Homo sapiens: one gene and its partner. The protein of the gene in region 2 purifies or fractionates together with the protein of the main gene of each other region. This does not show direct contact. Each region holds a gene or a part of one and is shown on either strand. Other genes may lie near its edges.

Evidence for each region. The genes of interacting proteins can lie anywhere in the genome.
Region 1: the proteins of DLGAP5 (region 2) and SLBP purify together in Homo sapiens (co-immunoprecipitation; one large-scale study listed by IntAct). This does not show direct contact.

The regions. Positions count from the first base shown.
Region 1 is NC_000004.12:1,698,820-1,702,319, forward strand, and holds part of SLBP (histone RNA hairpin-binding protein), read right to left. Parts: intron 1,252-3,500; coding exon 1,192-1,251; intron 883-1,191; coding exon 745-882; intron 1-744. UniProt on the Homo sapiens protein: RNA-binding protein involved in the histone pre-mRNA processing.
Region 2 is NC_000014.9:55,153,586-55,157,085, forward strand, and holds part of DLGAP5 (disks large-associated protein 5), read right to left. Parts: intron 1,222-3,500; coding exon 1,032-1,221; intron 1-1,031. UniProt on the Homo sapiens protein: Potential cell cycle regulator that may play a role in carcinogenesis of cancer cells. Mitotic phosphoprotein regulated by the ubiquitin-proteasome pathway.

The sequences.
Region 1 (3,500 bases), on a different chromosome or scaffold from region 2:
ATACTCTGCAGCCCAGGCTGGAGTGCAGTGGTGTGATTAATGGTTCACTGTAACGTTGAATTCCTGGGCTGAAGCAGTTCTCCCACCTGTCTCCCAAGTAGCTGGGACTACAGGTGCAAACCACCACACCTGGCTAATTTTTAAATTTTTTGTAGAGATGAGGTCTCCTTATATTGCCCAGGCTAGTCTCCTGGCCTCAAGCAGTCCTCTCGGCCTCCCAAAGTGCTGGAATTACAAGCATGAGCCATTGCACCTGGCCCAGAAATGTAAATTTCAACCCCAATCCTGCCAAAAAGTTCAGGAAAACACTAAAGCTTTCTTTATATCCTTCTGTGTCTGTGTGTTTGAGGGACCAGGATAGGCAAGAACATGCTGCTTAAAGACAATAGGGCAATGCCAATTTTTTTTTCTCCAATTAGAATTTTACAATATTTAACTTGAACTTCATTTTTCCCCATCATGTATTTTAATAAGCTTACATCTATGATTGCTGACTCCTAAGAAATAAAATGTTATCTAACATTCAAAATTATATGAAAATGATTTTTAAAATCTTCATGTCTTTAGTTTTCCAGTTGCCAATCCATTCTTTATTTACGTCATAAGCCCCAGTAAGTCCCTATTAAATAGCTCTTAGCAGGTGTGAACTATCCCCAGCATCATTTGTACTACCCAATCTAAGCAACTCTTTAGAAACGCAATGCCACACAGCTTGTTCAAGACATGCCACTGAAACAAGACTACCTTGGGACTTCTTTAATATAACGATCGTAGGCAATTGTGTTCTTCCCATAGTTGATCTGCTTCTGTCTCCTCATTAGGACACTTTCATCTGTCTCAAAGTCAGCCGGCACAGTAGACATAGACTCCTTTGAATCAGAACTGAAAAAACAACAGATTAACAGAATAAGCCCTGCAATTAAGATCACCATGTATGTAAGGTAAGCCAAGAAAATGTCAAAACACAATAATGGAAGATTCACTCCAGATTCCCAACCATATGAATCCTAAATAGTCCGGAGACTGCATGTATGGGAATTTAGTACACAACAGATACAGTATTTCAAATTAGTGAAAAAGGTATTAATAAATGCTACTGCGACAGTCAGCATTTCTGACAGTCACAATTTTTTTTTTTTAACAAATTACAGGTCTATCAAATTAGAAAAGAAACATTTACACAGCCTTTACCTTCCTGATGATGATTTTCTCTCTCTTCCAAAGTCATTGATGAGGAGTTTCCTTTTATATCTGAGGGCAAAATAAATATTGCTGTTTTTAAAAAAGATATAAAAATAAAGCAGCCAGGTCTGAGGAAGCTCCACCCTGATGCCCGCAGGCACACCATCCTATGCAATCCAGAAGCTCCGTGGGCCAAAAGAAATCTTTGTCAGGTTCAGTTTAAGTAGTGAGATCCACACAACAAAAATTTACATTCCCTAAAACTTGGCAGCCTTAAAAAAAGAAAAACAAAACATAAATTGAAATAAATTATTTTAAAAACACCAAACTTACTAATGGGACTCATATGCCTACTGGGCACTGCATACCTTCTCCAATCCTGGAGACCAAACGTGCCCCCTTTTCTCTTGTTCCTCATGAACTTCCTGAGGCATCTGCTTTCTATTGCAGTCATTACCAGAACGCAGTTTTGCAAAAAAAAAAGTATGACATCTCCAAAAGGAGTCTAGCGCAATCTGACGTTGAAACCACGAGCTACCTTGAGCTCCAAGTTCATGTGAGTATCTTTTTTTTTTTGAGATGGGGTCTCACTCTGTCACCCAGGCTAGAGTACAGTAGCACGATCATGGCTTACCACAGCCTCATATTCCTGGGCTGAAGCAATCATCTCACCTCAGCCTCCCAAGCAGCTAGGACTCCAGGCAAGTGCCGCCACAACCATCTCCAAAAAAATTTTTTTCTTTTTTTGGAGACATGGAGGTCTGTGTTGCCCAGGCTGCTCTTGAACTCCTGAGCTCAAGCAATCCTCCCGCCTCAGCCTCTCAAAAGTACTGAGATCAGGAGTGAGCCACCACCCCTGGCCTGTCATGCAGGTATCTAAATTATGTCATGTATTACTGTGCCTCCTCTCAAAATCTAAAATCCACCCAAGTTTGCTGAGGTGTTCAGTGCAGTTTGGACGCCAGAAGGTAATGAAGTAATTTATCTCCCGTGCATCTAGAGTAGCACTGGCTATATAACACCATCTTTGTACGATTCAGAGATTAGTCCTGCAAATCATTTGCTGCAGGGCCTCATTCTCTCCAGTACCACAGATGAGAAAGACTGGTTTTCAGGTATGATGAAAATCCATTTTCTTTTTTTTCTTTTTTTTTTTTTTTTTGAGACGGAGTTCCCTCTTGTTGCCCAGACTGGAGTGCAATGGCGAGATCTCGGCTCAGTGCAACCTCCGCCTCCCGGGTCCAAGCGATTCTCCTGCCTCAGCCTCCTGAGTAGCTGAGATTACAGGTTGCTGCCACCACGCCTGGCTAATTTTTAGTATTTTTAGTAGAGACGGGGTTTCTCCATGTTCGTCAGGCTGGTCTCGAACTCCTGATCTCAGGTGATCCGCCCGCCTTGGCCTCCCAAAGTACTGCGATTACAGGTGTGAGCCACCATGCCATGCAGAAAATCCATTTTCATACTCTTATATTGCTAGTTTGTAGTCTGTTAGTCTCCTTAAAGCATAGTAAGCTGACATTTCATACCGCTCTTACTGTCAGGAAGTAAGCCGGCCTGTCAGTAATGGCTCACTAAAGGGCCAGCAGTTTAAATTACACAGGTTGCACTAAAAGCTGCAGCTTTGGCCAGGCAAGGTGGATCACGCCTATAATCCCAACACTTTGGGAGGCCGAGGCGGGCAAATCACCTGAGGTCAGGAGTTCAAGACCAGCCTGGCCAATATGGTGAAACCTAGCCTCTACTAAAAATACAAAAATTAGCCGGACGTGGTGGCACACAGCTATAATCCCAGCTACTCGAGAGGCTGAGGCAGGAGAATCGCTTGAACCTAGGAAGCGGAAGTTGCAGTGAGCTGAGATTGCATCATTACACTCCAGCCTGGGAAACAGAGCAAGACTCCATCTCAAAAAAATAAGTAAGTAAATAAAAGCCGTAGCTTTCCATCACAAAGGGTATAATCAACAGAGCAGCCCAAACAGTGCTGTTTTCCAAAACAGGACAATTTTCAGGCACAGACCCATGAGATATCTGAAGAACAAATAGGGTCCACTCACAGGACAATCTGGACAGGTGGAATACGCATGAATAAGAGCTGCAGATAACCCCTGGCAAGGGGTGACTTGAGGGAGCAACTAGGCTATCGGTATGCAAGAACTGTTCTAAGACTTGTGCATGCAACACAAACTATACAAGTCAAGTCAAACATTCTAATTTTATAATTGAGGAAGTCAAGACCTATATAAATGCAATAATTCACTAAAAACACTGGTACTCTCATCTGTGAACTCCTAGTTCATTTCTTCTACCAAGGCATACAT
Region 2 (3,500 bases):
TAAAAAAGATATGCTCTATTTTTCTAGTGTCCAGCTTTACTTTGCCTTTATTACACAAAGTTGCTTATTTGTATGATGCCCTTTGAGGATGTTTTGGGGAATCCAAAACATTTTTAAAGAGTACTTATGACTCAAATGCAATTATGAATCTTCTTAGCAAACAATAGTAAACTACAAGATATACAAAGTAGGCCGGGCATGGTGGCTCACGCCTGTAATCCCAGCACTTTGGGAGGCCAAGGCTGGCAGATCATGAGGTCAAGAGATCAAGACCATCCTGGCCAACATAGTGAAACCCCGTCTCTACTAAAAATACAAAAATTAGCTGGGCGTGGTGGCGCGTGTCTGTAGTCCTAGCTACTCGGGAGGCTGAGGCAGAAGAATCGCTTGAACCCAGGAGGCAGAGGTTGCAGTAAGCCGAAATCGTACCACTGCACTCCAGCCTAGGCAACAGAGTGAGACTCCACCTCCAAAAAACAAACAAAAAAATCTAGAAGCATATCTAGCCCATAACAGTTGTTCAGTACACATTAACTCCCCCCCCTTCAATATGCTCTGCCATCTGTCAAGAAAACAATCTCAAGGTACTTTCTACAAAGCCTGGTAAAAAGTGTCCATCTCTCAACCACCTTGGGGAGGCATTAGCACTGCTGCTTTGTAGATGATGAAAGTGAAGCTAAAGAGAATTAATTACTTGCCCCAAAGTTGCATAGCTAGTAAGTCACAGAGCTCTTCTCAGCTCAGAACTGTTGAGCACCAAAGTTGTAGTATGTTTAGCACCAAAGGATACCATATTGCTTCTTTTCTTCTTACTGCTGCAGAATTTACCCAACTAAACGTGACCATTTAGTATCCTGAAACCTTAAGCTTTAGTTTCCTCATTTATAAAAAGGGAGTACTGCCTATATGTTGCAGGGTCATTATGAAATTTATTAAAAATATATGTCTGGCACCTTTTACCATCTTAACAATCTGAAATGGTATTTAGTATCAGCAACTGTTAAACTCTTATTAACATGTTAAAGAAATACCTGCTTTCAGGAATACTCAAAAACAAAGTCTTCTTCACATGTTCACTTTTCGTATTCTGAGGACCGGCATTTTCTGGTGATGTAGTTTGTTGTGGAATGCCCATCTCATTTCTACTCTGAGATACAGCTTTGTTGACAGACTTAGGTGTTCCAAGTCTTTGAGAAGGGCCTTCAGAAGAGACAGAAAGTCCTAGAAGATGAGAGAAATCACCTCAATACCAAATAGTTCTTTTGCTTTTCATTATAACTAGGAATACGGTGAAAATCCTATCAATTAGCCTCTTTCTCCTGTCAAATAATGTCTGTTAAAGACAAATGCCTGGGACTTTCTGTTAAAGATAGTATTTAAATGCATATTAGATGCTGCTTCCTTTTGACATCCCACTACTTTTACATGAACAGAGATAATTTTTTTGTTGTTGTTGAGACAGAGTCTTACACTGTCACCCAGGCTGGAGTGCAGTGGTGTGATCTCTCGGCTCACTGCAACCTCCGCCTCCCAGCTTCAAGTGATTCTCTTGCCTCAGCCTCCCCAGTAGCTGGGACTACAGATGCATGCCACCACGCCTGGCTAATTTTTGTATTTTTAGTAGAGATGAGGTTTCACCATGTTGGCCAGGCTGGTCTCGAACTCCTGACCTCAGGTGATCCACCTGCCTCAGATTCCCAAAGTGCTGGGATTAGAGGTGTGAGCCACTGCGCCAGGCCTGAACAGAGATAACCTTTTTTTTTGTTTTTGTTTTTTTAGAGATGGAGTTTCATTCTTGTTGCCCAGGCTGGAGTGTAATGGCATGATCTTGGCTCACTGCAACCTCCGCCTCCTGGGTTCAAGTGATTCTCCTGCCTCAGCCTCCCGAGTAGCTGGGATTACAGGCACCCGCCACCACGCCTGGCTAATTTTTTGTATTTTTAGTAGAGATGAGGTTTCACCATGTTGGCCAGGCTGGTCTCGAACTCCTGACCTCAGGTGATCCACCTGCCTCAGCCTCCCAAAGTACTGGGATTACAGGTGTGAGCCACCGTGCCTGGACACAGATAATCTTAAAAAGCAGAACTCTACAAGGACAAAGGAAACTAAAGAAGAGATAGCAACAATAACAATATTTTGGAAGCTATAATGTAGATTGTTGAGTGGGACTTAGCAGACTCAAGAAAACTAATTCTAAGCCACCAATCAAGAAAAATGAATTGGCCGGGCGCGGTGGCTCATGCCTGTGATCCCAGCACTTTGGGAGGCTGAGGCAGGTGGATCACGGGGCCAGAAGATCGAGACCATCCTGGCTAACATGGTAAAACCCCGTCTCTACTAAAAAAATACCAAAAAATCAGCCGGGTGTGGTGGCAGGCGCCTGTAGTCCCAGCTACTTGGGAGGCTGAGGTAGGAGAATGGCGTGAACCCAGGAGGCGGAGCTTGCAGTGTGCTGAGATCGTGCCACTGCACTCCAGCCTGGGCAATAGAGTGAGACTCTGCCTCAAAAAAAAAAAAGAAAGAAAAATGAGAATCAACCCAATTTCTACCACATAACCCCTCAAAAGAACTGGTGGCTCCAAGTATCTCTGCAAGTGGAGATGAAAATGGAGCTAAACACAGAAGGAATGGCTCAAAGTCAGTTTAAACAAGAAGAGCTCAGATTCCTTTCCTCATTCTGCACAGCAAAGCAACTGTCATCACCCACCCCCATCACCAAAAACAGAAGGGTCTCTGGTTTAGAGGATACCAGATACAGTTGAGAGACAGGGTACTACATGGAAAATAAGGGAAATAAGTGAATATTTACACAAAGTGTTGAGACACTTAGCTTTCTTCCCCTACATGGCTCCTGAAAGACTGGCAGCCAGAATGATACCTTCCAGGAAGCAGATGGAAAGCATCTTCTCTGGGGAATCTGAGTAGACTATGAGAAAAGTCTTAAATGCAGTGATGTGTAGGTTCCCAGCATAATGGCCCCGCTAACAGAAGGGCCCCGAAAGTAAAGGTCCTACCCATGTGCAGAGAGTTTCCAGTCAGCTTTTTAGTGCCCTATTCTTAACCATGTGCAGGCAGTGAGAGATCACCAGATTCCCGAGGAAAGCCTCTAAATACAAGAGACAGAAACCAAAAACAACTAGATGAAAGTACCCTGAAACAAATACTGTCTATAGTGGATGAAGAAAACATAAAAGCTATCATTAATATCCTTGGAAAGATAAAACAATACACTGATGAAACAAGTGCAGAATGTTATAAAATGAACATTTGGAGAGTAAGAAAGGGCTCTTGGGAATTAAAAACATGATAGCCAGCATGAAAGTTGAGGAAATCTCCAGGAAGTAGAAGAAAACAGTAAGTACAGGAAAGAAAGATTAAAAAGTCTACCAGAAGAAAAATGTGTTTTTGAAAAAGATCAAACCTTGTCAAGAGAGATGGTGGTAAACAACAAAACTCCAGTAAGACTCCAGTAAGTCCAAAAGACTCCAGTAAGAATTGAA